Linked DNA regions of Homo sapiens: region 1 is linked to region 2. A link means that fine-mapping ties the variant in region 2 to the expression of a gene that starts in the linked region. Tissue or cell type: aorta. Region 2 holds a variant in brackets; the other region holds the start of a gene. All regions are shown on one strand. Distances are between the middles of the regions.

What was found. PIP is the estimated chance that this variant, and not a neighbour inherited with it, causes the effect. A credible set is the group of variants that fine-mapping cannot tell apart.
Region 1: MALRD1-AS1 starts here. The variant in region 2 is the best candidate, but not a certain one, in a credible set for the expression of MALRD1-AS1 in aorta (GTEx, PIP 0.62).

Annotation. Positions count from the first base shown.
Region 1 is chr10:19,724,664-19,733,849 of GRCh38, reverse strand. MALRD1-AS1 (MALRD1 antisense RNA 1) reads left to right here and starts at 5,300. Exons shown (of 5, transcript NR_120646.1): 1 at 5,300-5,445. MALRD1 (MAM and LDL receptor class A domain containing 1) reads right to left here. Exons shown (of 40, transcript NM_001142308.3): 39 at 3,069-3,144.
Region 2 is chr10:19,509,956-19,519,141 of GRCh38, reverse strand. All of the region lies in intron 31 of MALRD1 (MAM and LDL receptor class A domain containing 1), which reads right to left. Among named protein-coding and RNA genes, the nearest start is that of MALRD1-AS1, 210 kb to the left of the region's middle. RefSeq lists an enhancer at 8,326-8,893. The variant C/G (reference allele first, on the strand shown) is at 4,239.

The DNA.
Region 1 (9,186 bases), 210 kb before region 2:
CTGTATTGAATATAGTTAGGTTAGACAAAACAAAACAAAACCAATGCCTTTAAGTAAATAAAAGCATTTTATATAAGTTTAAATGCCATTTCATTTAAGTTTCCTGTAAACTATAATTATATATATTATATATATATATAATATAAAACGTGGGAAATTCTATAGGACAAGCAATCTGGTTTCTTCAACAAATAATGTGCAAGAAAAAAAAATAAGACAGAATGGAACCTAGAGATGAAAAGAGATTTAAGAGCCATATCTACCCATTTGGATGCATATACCTTCTAAAATTTCTGATTTTTAAAATATAGCAACAACACAAAACCCCAAAAGAAAACCTTTTAGGTTTTAATGAGACAATTGGGGTAGGATGAATACTGAATGTTTGATGGCCTCAAGACATTCTTGTTAAATGTTTAGGGATGATCCTGCAGTTACATTTTTAAAAGTCCTTGTCCTTTAAAAACACAACTGAAGTCTTTACAGTTGAAATTAAATGATATTTGAAATTTGTTTGAAAACCTTCTGGAGGGTGAGGAAATGGAGGGCAGTAGAGGTGAAACAACAATGACCATGGGTTGACAGTCCTTGAAGCTGGCTGATGGGCACGTGGCAGTTGCTTACAATGAATATTGCCATGAATATTGGCATGAATTGCCAACGAATGTTGCCATGAATATTCTCTCCATTTCTGTATCAGAATGTGAGAGTTTTCTCCAATAATTTAAAACATAGTTTGAAAGATAGACTTAGAGAAGTCTATCTTTCTGATGATGGGGAAAGTAGACCTAGTTTAATCAATACAAAGTCATTTGTTTCTGAAACAATAGAAATCAAAATAGCCACAAAGGTCAGGAGATGTGCCAGGATTTCTTCTTTAGCCATTCATAATGAAAGGAAAACAGAAAATGAAAAAGGAATTTTTCTTTTATCGAAATAGAAAATAAACATAAATCACTTCTGAGGTGCTCTCAAGTCATCCATTACACCACCACACTCACACACAGTGGAAACCATTTTGAAAGCAGGTTGAAAGGTGGGTCTTTGATGGAGGCCCCTTCCTGTACTTGCTGAGAAGTACAAATCTGAATGCAACAGAATCCATCTCAGTAGAAAGTAAAGAATCCATAATACCTATCGAGCCACTTTTTAGTTACTACAAGTTTATGAGGCACTAATACAAAAAACATAAAATTGAAAAGATCTCACTTTAATTCCTTATCTCATGTGTACCTTTCAGACACTAAAAGTTAAACTAAGCTGAGGATAAAAAATATTAAATGTTCTGGCCAGGTACAGTGGCTCACGCCTGTAATGCCAGCACTTTGGGAGGCCAAGGAAGGCGGATCACCTAAGGTCAGGAGTTTGAGATCAGCCTGGCCAACATGATGAAACCCTGTCTCTACTAAAAATACAAAAATTAGCTGGGCATGGTGGCAGGCGCCTCTAATCCCAGCTACTCAGGAGGCTGAGGCAGGAGAATCACTTGAACCCAGGAGGTGGAGGTTGCAGTGAGTCGAGATCACACCATTGCACTCCAGCCTGGGTGGCAAGAGTGAAACTCCGTCTCAAAAAATAAATAAATAATAGATTTTCTTTCTCCAGTAAAAATGAAAATATATTTATATTACACCATCCTATTTTGTCAAAAAGATATATTACATTTGTTTTCTTAAATGTGTATGTGTTTTTTTATCCATGAAGTAGGTCTCCCTTTTCATTTTTACTCTGTCTTGATTTACTTGTCGAATCATCTAAATTCATTTTCTCTGTGCTTTAGGAAATCATTTACTTCCCGTTTTCATTCCTACCAAAACAATACTAAAAGTGTGTATCATATCATTATTGATTAAAACACAAAAATTAAAAAGTCAAGTGCTTTGTTAGGCTTCGGCCACAGCACTCAAGGCTCTTAAACTACCAGAAACCACCTGACCTGATACCTTGCTACTCATTTTCATAACCAGGAACAAGATAAAAAACTGTGACCTATTTTCATAAAGAAAGAGAATAATTAAAACTTTAGCTTTCTATAATACTCATTTTATAAGGAGTGAATTTTATATAGCTCTAAACTCAGATGTAATAAAACTTTTACAGTTCGGAAGTGGTGTGTCATAACTAAACTTACTTTATATCCAGATGAATTCTCATAACACTTACTTAAGAAAGGAATGGGAAAATAAAAAGAAAGGAATGAGATATTGATCAAAGAGTGCAAAGTTTTTGTGCAGGATGTATAAATTCTGGGGATCTAATGTATAGCATGTGACTATAATAATGTGTGATATACTCAAAATTTGCTAAGAGAGATCCTAAATGTTTTCAGCACACACACACACACACACACACACACAAAGTAAACTATGTGAGGTGATAGATATTTTAAATAGTTTCATTGTAGTAATCACTTCACAATGTATACCTATAGTAAAATATAATGTATACCTTAAACATATAAAAGTTTTGTCAACTATACCTAAAAATGACTTAAAATATAAAAAATCTAAAAAAGGAACAAGAAAGGTTTTCCTTGCCATTTTCTCCCTGCTTATAAAAATAAGGGGTAGCCCCAAAAAGGGCCAAGGAAGATGTAATACATTCTCATTTGTTTTTTCTCTTCTAAGTTATCAGGTAATGGCCCTCACTAGTCACCCTAAATTTAAACAGAACATAGAATGCTATCCTCTCTTTTGTTTTTGAAAATAAAATATGAAAGACATTCAATGAATAGTTACTGTAAGCAGCTGACTAATACTCTGTGGGTTAAACTGATATTTCCCAGATTTTTCAGCTCTTTTTGAGTATAAATAGTGACCACAACACCATTTAACAGTGAAGTGATCTTACAAGCAGACTGAAACTGTCCTGAAATGGACAATTCTCACAGCATATTTATAGAGATGGAAACTCCTTTCTATCCCCAATTGAAATAACTCCACTAAAACATTTCTTTTAGTTATGATGTAGAAACATGATCAAGCAACACTGGTTCAGCCTGTGTGTGTGTGTGTGTTTGTATGTGTGTGCATATGTGTGAAAAGATATAGTTCACCCTTGCCACTTACCTCTGTTTTCTCTGGGTTGCTCCAGTTCCCGTAAACTGGATTGACAAAGGCACAGTTACCACTTCCCTCGGTTTTCCTTAAAGCACACAGGGCCATCAAAAATAAAAAACTATTGACATTTACCATAGTACATTTTCAGGTTATTGTTTGTTAGAAACTTTTGAGAGACATGTTGTCTAGCCAGCACACTTATTTTCATGAATGTATTACCATAAGTAAAGTTTGTTTTTTATTTTTTATTTTTTGCAGGACACCAAGGCAACCACATTCAGGAAAGCAAATGTAATTTGAACTCTGAGTGTTTAGATCCAAATAAACTCAGGCAAATAAAAGAAATTGCAAAAGTTAGTCTTAATGTTGATTTCTTAAAATATTACTCAGTGCAAAGTGTCCAACATTAGAAAGAACAATGTAATATGAAGCTGTACTAGTGATAAAGAAAGGCCATCTTGAAGTCCTTTACACTGCACAGTGCCAAACCACTACATCCTGAAGACTGTTTTCCATGACAGTATCTGTCATAAAGATCTGTAGCACATGAGTCATAGTCTTTAACATTTTAATCAGCAAATTTAAATACAACTGTTTTGAAAAGTTCTTTAGGGTAGTGTTTCATGAAACTCAAAAACAGCAAGCCCTTGGTAATATCACATATTGGACTACATGTGCATAATTCACTATAATTAACTGGGCTCCATATGATTATTTTCCTTTTATACTTTACTTAAGAATTAATAGACTTATAGGCCGGGCGTGGTGGCTCACGCCTGTAATCCCAGCACTTCGGGAGGCCGAGGCGGGCGGATCACGAGGTCAGGAGATCGAGACCATCCTGGCTAACACGGTGAAACCCCGTCTCTACTGAAAATACAAAAAAATTAGCCGGGCGTGGTGGCGGGCGCCTGTAGTCCCAGCTACTTGGGAGGCTGAGGCAGGAGAATGGCGTGAACCCGGGAGGCGGAGCTTGCAGTGAGCCGAGATCGCGCCACTGCACTCCAGCCTGGGCCACAGAGCGAGACTCCGTCTCAAAAAAAAAAAAAAAAAAAAAAAAAAAAAAAAAGAATTAATAGACTTATTAGAAGACACGCAGCCCTGGACTACTTGGTGACAACTGATGAAGAAAAAATGTCCATCGTAGGAACAAAAAAAAGTAACCAAGAACTAAATACACACACACACACACACACACGAAAGGATCCTATACACACATGTGTACACACACACACACATAAGAAAGGATCCTATACATGCATGTGTACACACACACACACACACAATGGAGAATGGAAGACCAATTCCAGGATGATTGTTTTAAGAGCTTAATGACACGAGTAACAAATATATAATGTATGATAATTGTATAACACAATGTATAATGTATGTATAATGTATATTTTTTGCCTATTCAGGATACAGTGAAAATTAATGTTTGTCAGTAATATAATTCTAAATCCCAAAATAAAATGTAGCAAGAAGGGGGCTCTTACTGATTTGATTTCTGAAAACAAATTGCCATAGGCATAACTGCCTATTGTCATCTACCAAACCACATGGTCCTTTTCAAAGAAACTGCAGCATCAGTGAGCCTAACAGTCTAATCTAGCTAATTATGTTTGGCTGGCAATACATTGTCCCTGTGGATTCAGTGTCTTTTAAGCTTCCTGATCTCCACTGGCTTAAATATACAATAGATTAAATGTTTCACCCTCACCGCGGGTACATTTTGCTTATTGATGAATAGGGCCATATGCATCTATTTTGTGGGTTATTATTGAAAAAAGTCTGAATTGAGTCAACAAATATCTGTTAATTCCTTAAGCACTAATTGAATGCTTATTAGTTGCTCTGATTAATTTGAGTAAGTTGTGTTTGACTCTTTGCCTTTACTTTATTCAAGACTAGTCTATGTTAAATTCTCGGAGTAGTAATCTCAGTACATAGCATGGTTAGTGCATGAACTGAGCCAGGGATGATCTTGGAGTTGAGATTGGGTAGGGAGTGAAGTGTAGTTTTGAAATGCATCAAAATACCAAAGCAGGAAAAATTGGACATGGAAGTAGGGATGATCAAAACATAATAGAAATTAGGAACTAAGTAAAGATAAGACAGACACTGACACCAAGAGCTCAGAAAAATTAAGAGGCTGAAATCAGGCATGAAATCAGGAAGCAGGAGGAAACCCAAACCACAGGGCTAGACAGGACAGATGGTCAAAGCCTGAGCATACAACCAGGAGCTGAAGGGACCAGCTTGGCCGTCAGTTGCAAGGGTGTGAGGCAGAAGCAACACAAAAGATCTTGATATGAAGCAATTATTTTTGGTCTTAAACTGCTGGGACTCCAGATGACCCAGACCACGGTCAGCAGGCAGAAGCCAGGTAAATTTATATAATTCTCAGCTCTGTTAATTCAATTATTGAAGCTACTTGTCTTCTGAAAGGGTTTTAAGTCTGAAATAATTTTCTATTAAAATGAAAAAACATTTGAAGGTGTCTGGCCTTCAAGATTTGGGTAACTACAAAGAAGGAAGATGATATTTAAGAGTAAGGATGTGGAGTTGTAATAAAAGAAGAAAGGGTTTCAGTGTGAGTATTGGAAGGTGAGGAATGGCAAATCCTTCCTACTTCAACTTTTGTTTTTTAGTAGTCTCAAATTGCTTTTATTTTTCCTAGATTAAAGATATATCTCCCATTCTTGAAAATCCCTGGACTATTAGACTTAAATTTTAATGTCTTTCCTATTTATTTATAAGGTAAACTATTACACCGTCCACAGATTCTTCCATGAAGGAAATTGCTAGTGTCACTCTATACATTTAGTATTTCAAGTTCAATATTATGATTTTCCATTTTCATCAACTATGTCAATTTGACATTCAAACACAGGCAATTTTACTTAAAATGGTGGATCCTTACATGAGGGAAATAAAATGTTTGTTTCATTATAAAGTTTCCTGCCAGTTCTGAAACTCAATGGTGTAATGATGAGTCTTCATCAGGCCAAAAAAAAAAAAATGCAATGTTTGACTTACTGTATTTGTCAATATGCCGGTAGCTCTTAAGCAGTTGATTTTTTTTCCCCCAATGAATAAGTGAGTTGTAAGAATTGAGGTTCTAAAGAATATAACCACCTCTAGGAATAATGATGATAAAGGAACTGACTTAGAAATTTTGAGTAGAGGAAAGGAAGTTGCATGGATCATATAAGTTTTTCTCCCTTATCATGCATTCATATAAATTATTATTAAGTTTATCTTATATCCATTACGTGCAGATACTGTGCGAAGTGGCATTCTGAATGTGTGACAAGAGACCTAGATCAATGCAGAACTAAGATAATTCTGATGGCAGTTTCCAATTTTAATTTAGCGAGCATATTTATACTTCTAATGGAATTCACTTATTAACTGACAACATTGTTTTAGTGTTGATAAAAGCATGGAAGTGTTTATAATAGTCTGAAACTATTACAAATGGGAAAGGAGAAAAAAAGAATAAAACAAAAACCAATCTATGTTACATCCAGTAAACATGACTTCGAGGTGAATATTTTGTATTTTTATTTTTAACAGCTTTATGGAGCTATAAATCACATGCCATACAATTCACAAACTTAAAGTACACAATTCAATGGTTTTCAGTAATGTTACTTTTATTAATTTTTAATTTTTAAAACAGTGGTATATATCACATAAAATTTGCCATTTTAACCATTTCAAGTATACAATTCAATGCCATTAATTCCACTCACAGTGTTGTGCTACCATTACCACTATTTCCAAAATGTTTTTATAACTCTGAACTGAAGCTCCATGGCCAGTGAGCATTAACACCCCATTCCCCTCCAACCAATCCCAGGTAAATTCTGATTTACCTTCTGTCTTTATGAGACTCGAGGTACCTCACCTAAGTGGAATCATACAGTATTTGTCCTTTTGTGTTTGGCTTATTTCACTTAGCATAATGTTTTCAAGATTCATCCATATTGTAGTATGTATCAGAAGTTTAATCATTTTTATTGCTGAATAATATTCCCTTGCATGTATATGTCACATTTTGTTTATTCATTCACCTGTTGATGGAAATTTGGGTAGTTTCCATCTTTTCACTATTGTGAATACTGCTATGGGGAACATTGCTGCATGAATATCTGTTTAAGTCTCTATTTTGATTCTTCGAGGTATATAACTAGGAGTTGAATTGATAGAACACACGGTAACTCTTTTTTAACTTTTGAGGAACTGCCAAACTGTTTTTGATAGTGCTGCACCATCTTACATTCCCACCAACAATGTGTGAGGGTTTCTATTTCTCCTCATCCTCATCAACACTTGTTATTTTCAGTTTTTAAATTATTATTATTATTGCTATCTCAGTGGATGTGAATTGGTATGTAATTGTGGTACTGATTTTCATTTCCCTAATGACTAGTGATGTTGAACATCTTTTTATGTTCAACTATATGTAATCTTCTTTGAAGAAATGACTATTCTAGTCCTTTGCCCATTTTGAAATTGGGTTGTCTTTTTGTTCTTAAGTTGTATGGATTTTTATATATTCTGGATATTAAACTTTTATCAGATACGTACTTTTGAATATTTTCTACCATTTTGTAGATTGTCTTTTCACTTTCTTGATAATGTCTTTTGTTGCACAAAAGTTTTTGATTTTGATAAAGTCCAATTTACTTATTTATTTTTTGTTGTTGCTTGTGCTTTTGGTGTCATATTTAAGAAAGAATCAATTTCCAAATCCAAGATCATGAAGATTTACCACTATGTTTTCTTTTAAATGCATTATGGCTTTTGCTCTTACATGTAGCTCCTTGATCCATTTTGAGCTAATTTCTGTATGTGGTGTGAAGTAGGGGGTCCATCTGCATTCTTTTGCATTGCAAAATCCAGTTGTCCCAATATCATCTACTGAAGAGACTATTTGATCCCCATTGGATGGACTTGGCATTGTTGTCAAGCATCAATTCATGACAGATGTATAGGATTATATTTGAATTTTCAATTCAGTTCAATTCAATTGATCTATATGTCTGTTCTCATGCCTCATGCCGATACCACACTGTTTTGTTTACTGTACTTTTGTAGTAAATTCTGAAATTTGGAAGTTTGAGTTCTCCAACATTGTTTTGGCTATTTGGTACCCTTGCAATTTATAAATTTGAGAAGAGGTTTTTCACTTTTGCAAAAATGGCTGTTGGAATTTTCGATAGAGATTGCCTTGAATCTGCAGGTTGCTGTATTAGTCTGTTCTCATGCTGCTGTGAAGAAATACCTGAGCCTGGGTAATTTATAAAGGAAAGAGGTTTAATTGACTCACAGTTCCACAGGCCTGGGGAGGCCTCAGGTAACTTACAATCATGGCAGAAGGGGAAGCAAATATGCCCTTCTTCACACAGTGGCAGCCAGAAGTGCAGAGCAAAAGCCGGAAAAGCCCCGTCTAAAGCCATCAGACCTTGTGAGAACTTACTCACTATCCTGAGAATAGCAGCATGAGGGTAACCACCCCCATGCTTAGATTACCTCCCACTAGGTCCCTCCCACGGCTTGTGGGGATTATGGAAACTAGAATTCAAGATGAGATTTGGGTGGGGACATGGAGCCAAACCATATGAGTTGCTTTAGTTAGTATTAACGTCTCGACAATATTGTCCTCCTTTCCATGAACTTAGTGTGTCATTCCATTTAGTTAGGTCTTATTTAATTTCTTTCAATAATGCTTTGTGATTTTAAGTGTATAAATCTTTCACCTCATTGGTTAAATTTATTCCCAGGTATTTTATTCTTTTAGATGCTATTGTCAACAGAATTGCCTTCAAGATTCCTTTTCTGATTGTTCATTGCTGGTATGTAGTAATACAACTGATTTTTAAGTGTTGCTCTTATACCTTGTAACTTCTCTGAATTTGTTTATTTGCTCTAGTAGCTTTCTTGTGGATTCTTTGAGATTGCTTATATATAGTATCATGCCATTTATGAATACTGAAGTTTATGTCTTCTTTTCCAATTTGAATGCGTTTTACTTCCTTTTTTCCCATTTCCTCTGGCAAAAGTTTATTTTTGATAACTACATTTATCCCTAGCTTAGTGGGGCTATAAAACTTCCTTA
Region 2 (9,186 bases):
TGACAATGAAAGAAAATTAGAACAAGTATATACATTTTTTTAAGTAATGGTAAACATGAAGAGGATATTTCTAGGGCAAGTCAAAGAAAAGACAGAAAAAGAGAGAAAGCTTTTAAAATAACCCGAGATACATTCATATATCATTAAAAAGTGAGATCCTGCATTACATACACCAAACAGCATTATAGGGATAATGCTGTCTAATTCATTGTAAAAGCAAAACATCTAAAGCAAATCAACTTTATGACTAGTGTTGCACTGGCAGTGCTGATGGTCATAATTTTCACTGTGGTTGTGAGTGATTCATGAATGGCAATTGCCACTAAAATTGAAACCAATTATGTAGTAAGCCAAAGTTTGTTCTATTTAGGAAGTTTCAGAACATGACTGTTAGTGAAACAACTAAACATTTTATTAAGAAAAGTACCTTTCTGCTGACAAAGATAATTGTATTTTAGTATTTATGAAAAAAAAAAATGTTCACACCATTACCTGAAAATGCAAAGCCTGTAACAATTAATACAAAATTTGGAAATAGAGATCTGGATGATTTTGTAGAGTGAATTATGAAGGCAACGTATGTCATTATAGAGATGTTATCACACTATCATAAATACTATCTCACAGGTCAGTAGAGACTCTGTAATTTCAAAAAATAATAAAATATCAACTTTGACATTATATAAGAAAAAGAAAATCATAAAAGATAAAGAAAATATAAAATTAAGAATGTCATTGGTTTTTCTCTATGGAAATTATAAAACAGAAATGATAATATCTGCACAATAATTCAGAAGACAGTTATTTATGGACACTGAAATTGCTGATATATTCAGATTGCCATGTTAATGTTGTTAAATTAAATTAGCAGGAGGCCATTAGTCTGAGGTTGTCTCTTTGAGTTTCTGCAAAACAAACTACAACCTAACTTAGTATGTACACAAACTATAATAAAACTTAGGAGTATAACAAACAACAGAGCTTCAGCTAATCATAAGCAGCTGTGTTTCAGCCAGTCACAGGCAGGCAACTAATGACAATATTCCGAAATAAGGCAGATGCCTAGCAGTATAGCCAATCAGGGGATTCCCTAAAGTGCTTCTGTGTTTGGCTCATAAAAACTTGCTCAAACTCAGGCAGAGCTCTCTGAACCTTTTCTGGTTCTGAGTGCTACCTGATTTATAAGTCATATCTGCAAAAATAAACTCTGCTAAATTTAATTTGTCTGAATTAACAGTTTGGTGTCAGAAGTGGGATGTGGAGGAAACCTCCCATGACCCTCAGAAGCACCAAGTGACCAAGCATTAAGTCCATTGCTCTCTTGCAACAAGTGAAGGCTGTGGGTGAGTTCTCTCTTAAATTTGAGCTCCTCAAATTTGTGTTTTGAGCTTCCTGATTTTATTCGAACAATTACTGGATATGACTGTGCCCAGGCTCATACTGAACTTCATAACAAAACTGGACTGGATCCAATAGGTAAGGTTACTACATAAAATTGTAGGTCATCTGTAACCAAGGTATCTAGAACTCCCCCATCTGGAACACCAGCTGATTTCATATATAAGAACTATGGACCTAGAATCTGTGTTTTTCTACAGAAATGGGTGAACTTTATCAAAGGTGACTTAGAGTTACATTGGCTACAGCGAGAAAACTCTTTAGAAAAGGCATGATGCATGTCTTTGTATCTATGGGACTAACAGGTCCTCCTTGTGTGTATTTTAAAACCCAAACTGAGAGATTTCAAACTAGAACCTCGTGCCCTGAGATTTTTGCCTTTATTGTAAACAGCCAGGCTATTGGAAAAGAAATTGCCCATGTTTTCACCAGCCATCTGATGAATGCACTCACATTGGCCTGGAATGTTTCCCTACTGGAGAAAGTACTTAAGGGCTTGACTCCCAGGACAATAACCAACCAGTCCCTCAGATAAAAAAGCATATTTCCAGGGTGGGAATTTCAAGTCAAGCCCCCAAAAGTCTACAGTCTTAATCTATCCAATTGATATTAGGATCATTTTCAGAAAAACGTTTGTTAGAATTAGTTCTGTTTTTCCTATTCAATCCTGCTTCAACCAGAGGAATTACTCGGTCAACTAAAACCCCTCGTCTCAAACCCCTGATGACATGAAAAGCCTTACTTTTGTTTTAAGTGCTTGTCATGGCCATCTTGTCTTAACTGGGCTTTTAGCTATGCCGTTCTTTCTTGGTTTAGGCAGACTACAGTATTTAAGCCTAAAGTTTAAGCTCTGTGACTTTAAGATGTAAAAATTTAACACTGTCTTCTGTAGGACCTCATAGATATCATTTTAAAATGCAAGTATAGAGAAAATGATAATGATGAAGGAGAAGGAGGAGAAGAGGGAGGAGAAGAAGGTGAAGGGGAAGAGAAAGAACAAGGAAGAAGGAAGAGGGAGGGAGGGAGGTAAGCAAGGGAGGGAGGGAGGAAGGGAGGGAGGAGATGAGGAGGAGGAAGAAGAGTAGGAAGAGGAAGAGGAGGAGGAGGAAGAGGAGGAGCAGGAGGAGGAGAAGATATTTGAAAATTGAACAAATGAAAAAATCTTAAAAGTTTCCCCACAAATATTAGTAGAATATTTAGTCATCTAGGAAAGCAATCTTGTTCCACGGACAAGAAAAAGAATTTGACTCTAAATCTTTAATAAATTAGTGAGTTTCATATTATTGTACTTGAAACACGGTTTAAATTTTCAAATAAAAGCTATAAGAAATGTTTCTCTGTATATATTTTTGTCTAATTGTCTATATGTTATGTATGTGTGGTATTTTTCTACCAGCTTACAGGATTGCCAAAATTAAATTGTAAAAGAGTTCTCTTACATTGGCTGAAAAAAATGAGCACTTGCATAAATTAGATATTCCTTAAACTCTAAGATAGAAACTAACACAAATTATTTTCAAATTTACATGATCTGGGATAGTCTTTGGTAAATAAAAGCTAATTAAAGTGTGTGAGTTTGATTAAAGCAGGTACATCTCCAGATTTCTCAACATTAGACATAATTCAGATGCACAACTTTTTCTACCTAGGTTTATTAGTAAAACAAGCTTATGTTATCTCTATATTAAAAAATTTGTCAGCAATGAAAATAACTTAAGACGATAGCTAGTTGTTTAACGTCTCATCTTCATAAGTAATCCAAGCATAATCATAAAAACAAGTGAATTAAATAGGTGTAAGTAATCTAAAATTCCCATGTGAATGATGTCCTTATACTAGCTGGTTCTAACGTTCTTATCAGCAAGAAGAGAAAGTTGGCCATGCACGGTGGCTCACGCCTGTAATCCGAGCTCTTTGGGAGGCCAAGGCAGGCAGATCACGAGGTCAAGAGATTGAGACCATCCTGGCTAACATGGTGAAACCCCATCTCTACTAAAAATACAAAAAAGAAAAAAAATTAGCCAGGCGTTGTAGCGGGTGCCTGTAGTCCCAGCTACTCGGGAGGCTGAGGCAGGAGAATGGCGTGAACCCGGGAGGCAGAGCTTGCAGTGAGCTAAGATCGGGCCACTGTGCTCCAGCCTGGGCAACAGAGCGAGACTCTGTCTCAAAAAAAATAAATAAATAAAAATTAAAAAAAAGAGAAAGTTGAGGCTACGGGAAATCTGTACAAACAACAAGTTAAAGTGACCTACTAAAAGAAAACCTTGAAAGGACAGAGATAAAATTTTGCCTCTTCTACAGTTTCTCATTACAGGACTAAAGATGGTTTAAACTGTTAGTACACATGTTCTGTGTCATACCAAAAAAAGTGTACTATGAAAAAGTACATATTTCTAGAAATTATGATTCATAGATTTGCCAATCTACAGGAAGCTGGTGTGATATAGCTCAGTTGTTTGCTTCCTAGTGTTCCCTGTAAATTAAGGTCACTAAGAGTTCATTATTTGAATTCATACATGTAACTAAAATTACTAGAAATAATTAGAAAAACCATTCTAAATCCAAGTATATAAAGATGGTAAGCTATGCTTTTGGTAAGAAAAGCTATAAAGTATAAAGTTGTGTTTTTGTTGTTTGTTAAGTAAAAAAGATTTTTTTTTTTGTCCTAAAGCATAAGAAATGGCTGTTTCAAAATGGGAAAAAGAAAAAAGTATAAAACAAACACTGAATGGACATAAGGGTATTGTAGATGGAATGGACAGATATTTTATGTGTGATCAAACTGGCTGCAATTAGAAGGGAATTATTTTTAAGTCTTCCAAAAAAATAAGCATTTATAT[C/G]AAAAGTACACTGATACAAAACAAGAATTTGATCCTCTATGTTAAAACAACAAGGTTTTCTTGGAGTATTGGTCTGCCTTTAGTAGAAAATTGTAAAAGGCTTTCCTTTTAGATAATTGACCTAGGAAACAAATATTCTGTGTTTTATCAAGATAATTTCCTACACTTCATGCAGTCTGTATGGGATCTTTCATTTCTTAAGAAAAGTGAGTTCTGTTTATTAAATGAACTAAGGTTTTTCTTTCCTATAACTATGTACCTTTCTGTATTTGTCTTTAAATATTTTAATTATCACTCTAGTTAAATGAGTAAGCATTGTTTCACATTGCCCTGTAATCCTATTTTAATCAAGTATTCAAAACCTCTTATTTTTCAAGACTTCCCAAAATCAAAGTCTAAATTAGGATCTTTTGACGTTGAACTAACTTAGGGAGTTTTCCTACAGGCCATAGAAATATCTCAAAAGAATTTTTTTCTTTCTCTTGATTAAAAGAGAGGTGTAAAACTAATTAGGCTTATCTAACATGTTAAATGGCATGGGAAACATTGTCAAATAATAAGTGATACTAAACCTTATTTCAATTATATTGTATGATATGTTATTAATATGTGTTTGAGAAATTATATAAAATTCCAAGGAAACTGATGGTTGTAGTATAATGCTGTCAGTCATAATTCTAGTTATTACCTTAAATTATTTTATGTTGCAAAAACAAAATTTTCTTGCCAGTTGCACTATAATAAACTGTAATAAGATCTTTAAGCCATGGCCATTTTAAGTCTTGTCATCTGTAGATAGTTCATTGTTTTATTCTGTTAGGTTCCTGAAAGCTATTACAAACAGCTGTAAGCCTAAAATATTTTATCTTTCAGGGGATTCACGGAAAGGACTCTAACAAGTACAGGTTTCTGGTAACTTTAAGATCCCATCATTTGACTAGGTAAGAATTCTCAGAATTTTAATGAAGAAACTGATTGGCACCTAAATTGCTAACCCAATATCTAGTAGAACAAGAATTAATTAATTGAATGCCAAGAAAATGCTGTTGCAGATTCTCGTGGTTAAGTCAGCCAATACTGAAATTGTTAAGATACTGTGTTAGTTAATTCTGCATTGCTATAAAGGAGTACCTTAGGTTGGATAATTTTTTTTTTCTTTTCTTTTGAGATGGAGTCTTGCTCTTTCACCCAGGTTGGAGTACAGTGGCCCAATCTCAGCTCACTGCAACCGCCGCCTCCCGGGTTCACACCATTCTCCTGCCTCAGCCTCCCGAGTAGCTGGGGCTACAGGCACCCGCTACCACGCCTGGCTAATTTTTTGTATTTTTAGTAGAGACGGGGTTTCCCTGTGTTAGCCAGGATGGTCTCAATCTCCTGACCTCGTGATCCGCCCGCCTCGGCCTCCCAAAGTGCTGAGATTACAGGCGTGAGCCACCACGCCCGGCCAGGTTGGATAATTTTCAAAAAAAAAAAAAAAAGAGATTTATTTGGCTCATGGTTCTGCAAGCTGTATAAGCATGGCACCAGTATCTGCTTGGCTTCTGGTGAGGCCTCAGGAAGCTTATGGTCATGAAAGAAGGAAAAAGGGAACCTGTTAGATCACGTAGTGAGAAAGGAAGCAAGAGAGTGAAGGGGGAGGTCTACACACATTTTAACAATGAGTTCTCATGTGGACTCATTACCAGAGATGGAGCACCATGCCGTTCATGAGGAATCCATCCTCATGACCCAAGCACCTCTCACTAGGTCCCATCTCCAACACTGGGGATTACCTTTTAACATGAGATTTGGAGGGGACAAATATACAAACCATATCATATATGCAATTTAAGTGAACACAGTAAGATTGACCCAACTCAAATTATCTATGACAACCTATTTAATAAACAGTGCTACACACCTGAAATGAAGAAACAAATGTGTTATTTAAAATTAAGTAAATTCGATGTTAATTGTACACCCATGGAGGACCCAGATGACCACTTCGTCCTTCCTGAGTCCTTAAATCTTCCATTATTTAAAACTATGCACTCCATGAATCATTATGGAAATTTCAAAATGACTTAAATTATGAAAAAAAAATCTTGGAGTGACTAGTCTAAAATTGCTAAAATGGTTTGTAAGCATTTTTTGGTTTGTCAAATCCATAATTCTGGGAAGACAACCAAGTCTTTAGGCGCTGCATTTCTACCTATAAATCATTTAAAATTTTACAAATGGATTTAACTCAATTGCCACCTTCAATGGGATATCAATGTGTTCTTGTAGTTTGTATGTTTCCTGGTTAGACAGAAGCTTTCCTGTATAGGAAAGCCAATGCTATGACAGTAACTAAGAGGTTATTATAAATGTTTTTCTTTTATGGGGTATTCTTGAAGAAATTTCCAGTGATGGAGGCACTCATTTCACTGGGCAAATCATCAAACAGTTAAATAAGATATTACAAACACAATGGCATTATGCAAAACTAACTGAATAGACTGGATTGCCTTGGGCAAATGTATTACTGCTGTCCTTGATGGCAATAATATCTATTCTCCCTGGAAAGCACCAATTATGAAATCTTATCAAATAGTCACTGAGGCCTTTGCCCATAACAATAGAGCTGCCTGTATCTCCTGTTCTTATAAATGATGAAATATTGCCAAGCTTTAATGTATTATGCCAGAGTATATGTTTACCATGTAAAAAAAGCCCTTTGTTACCCACCAACTGATGATAACCACATTTTTCATGATCTAGGGCACAGAATGGCTCTTTTGGAAGTGACACTAGAGAAAGACTGCCCCTGAGCCCCACTGGAGAGAATGATACCAAGCTCTTTTAAGCAATCATACTGCAGCAAAACTTTATAACCTTCAGTCTTGGCTCCCTATCTCTCAACTCAAGAGGACTCCTCCAAGACTGCACATCTTTTGGAGACCTCAAGGCAAAACTGACCAAGGAGATTTCTCTTCAGAAGAAGATGACATCCTAGATGTGGCCAACTTTCCCCAAAACAAGGATCAAAACTTCTCCCCTCTCTCATTATGAAAACTTTGTCTTTTTTATTTTTTCTCTGTGTTTCTTTTCTGTTTACAAATGGTGAGATAATGCCAAAATCAAGATTTCATAGTTGATAACTTCTGCAGAAAACCTAACTGAATGTTGACTATGTCATGTTAAACCAATATCCCTACATGATCTTAGAGATCCTCTAGTTCACCCTGAAACAAAAGTTACTGATATTCCAAATGTGACCATTTTCTCATATTGCAGGTTTGATTCTTCTATAGGGTTAGACTTTTAGATTCACATATTCATATTCCTTGTTTAAAGCTAACAGTAGGCAAAACATATAATGAGGGTTTTGCAGTTAATTATGCCAGAAATTGAATAAGAACAACAAAAAATAGTTTGGCATTTTGTAGACAAATATATAACCCTAATTGTTGATGGGCTCTAACCATGCTATGATTTGATAATAAAGCCTTGGATAAATTTTAGTGCTTTCCTACTAGTGACCCTTAAATCACAAGACATCTTAAAGGGAACTGTCTGTTGTGGCTCTTGAAGATATATTTTTATTTGTAGAGAATTTAAAGATCAGCCGTGTGCTGATCTTTTTGACTCCATGTCTCAAAAAGAGGCCAATGTGGGTTAGGCATTTTAACGGCACCACTCACTCCATAATCAACTGGAAACTGATCATTGATCTATACAATTCAATTTTCAATGTAAAATAAATAAGATTTTTTCTAGCTGTAAATGAGCATCTTTGGGTAGAACACTCCTTTCCTGGCTTGGCATAAATATAATAAAGTTATGGTTAGAAATCAGTCTCAAATACTAACTGATATAGCTGACTATATTGCAAAGGCTATGGCTGCCCAGTACATTTCTTTAAATTCTCTTGATAAGGTTGTTTTAGATAGCAAGATTGTTTTGGACTACCTGTTGGCTGAACAGCGGGGAGTGTCTACAGTAGCTAACACCTCTTGCTGCACACGGATAAATACATCTGGTATAGAAACTAATCTGCAAGAATTCAGCAAACAAGCTATTTGGTTAAAACAAGTAGATTCCACTTCTGGTTTATTTTTTGATTTATTTGATTTTAATTCATATGATTCTTAGGGCTCCTGCTATGGAGTAAACAATATGGGGAAAAGAAAGAGAGATCAGACTGTTACTGTGTCTATGTAGAAAGAAGTAGACATAAGAGACTCCATTTTGTTCTGTACTAAGAAAAATTCTTCTGCCTTGAGATGCTGTTAATCTGTAACCCTACCCTCAACCCTGTGCTCGCAGAAACATGTGCTGTGTCGACTCAAGGTTTAATGGATTTAGGGCTATGCAGGATGTGCTTTGTTAAACAAATGCTTGAAGGCAGCATGCTTGTTAAAAGTCATCACCACTCCCTACTCTCAAGTACCCAGGGACATAAAACACTGCGGAAGGCTGCAGGGAACTCTGCCTAGGAAAGCCAGGTATTGTCCAAGGTTTCTCCCCATGTGATAGTCTGAAATATGGCCTTGTGGGAAGGGAAAGACCTGACCATCCCCCAGCCCGACACCTGTAAAGGGTCTGTGCTGAGGAGGATTAGTAAAAGAGGAAAGCCTCTTTGCAGTTGAGGTAAGAGGAAGGCATCTGTCTCCTGCTCCTCCCTTGGCAATGGAATGTCTCAGTGTAAAACTCGATTGTATATTCCATCTACTGAGATAGCAGAAAACTGCCTTAGGGCTGGAGGTGAGACATGCTGGCTCTTTAAGGCATTGAGATGTTTACGTACGTGCACATCAAAAGCACAGCACCTTTTCCTTTACCTTGTTTATGATGCAGAGACATTTGTTCACGTTTTCCTGCTGACCCTCTCTCCACTATTACCCTATTGTCCTGCCACATCCCCCTCTCCAAGATGGTAGAGATAATGATCAATAAATACTGAGGGAACTCAGAGACTGGTGCT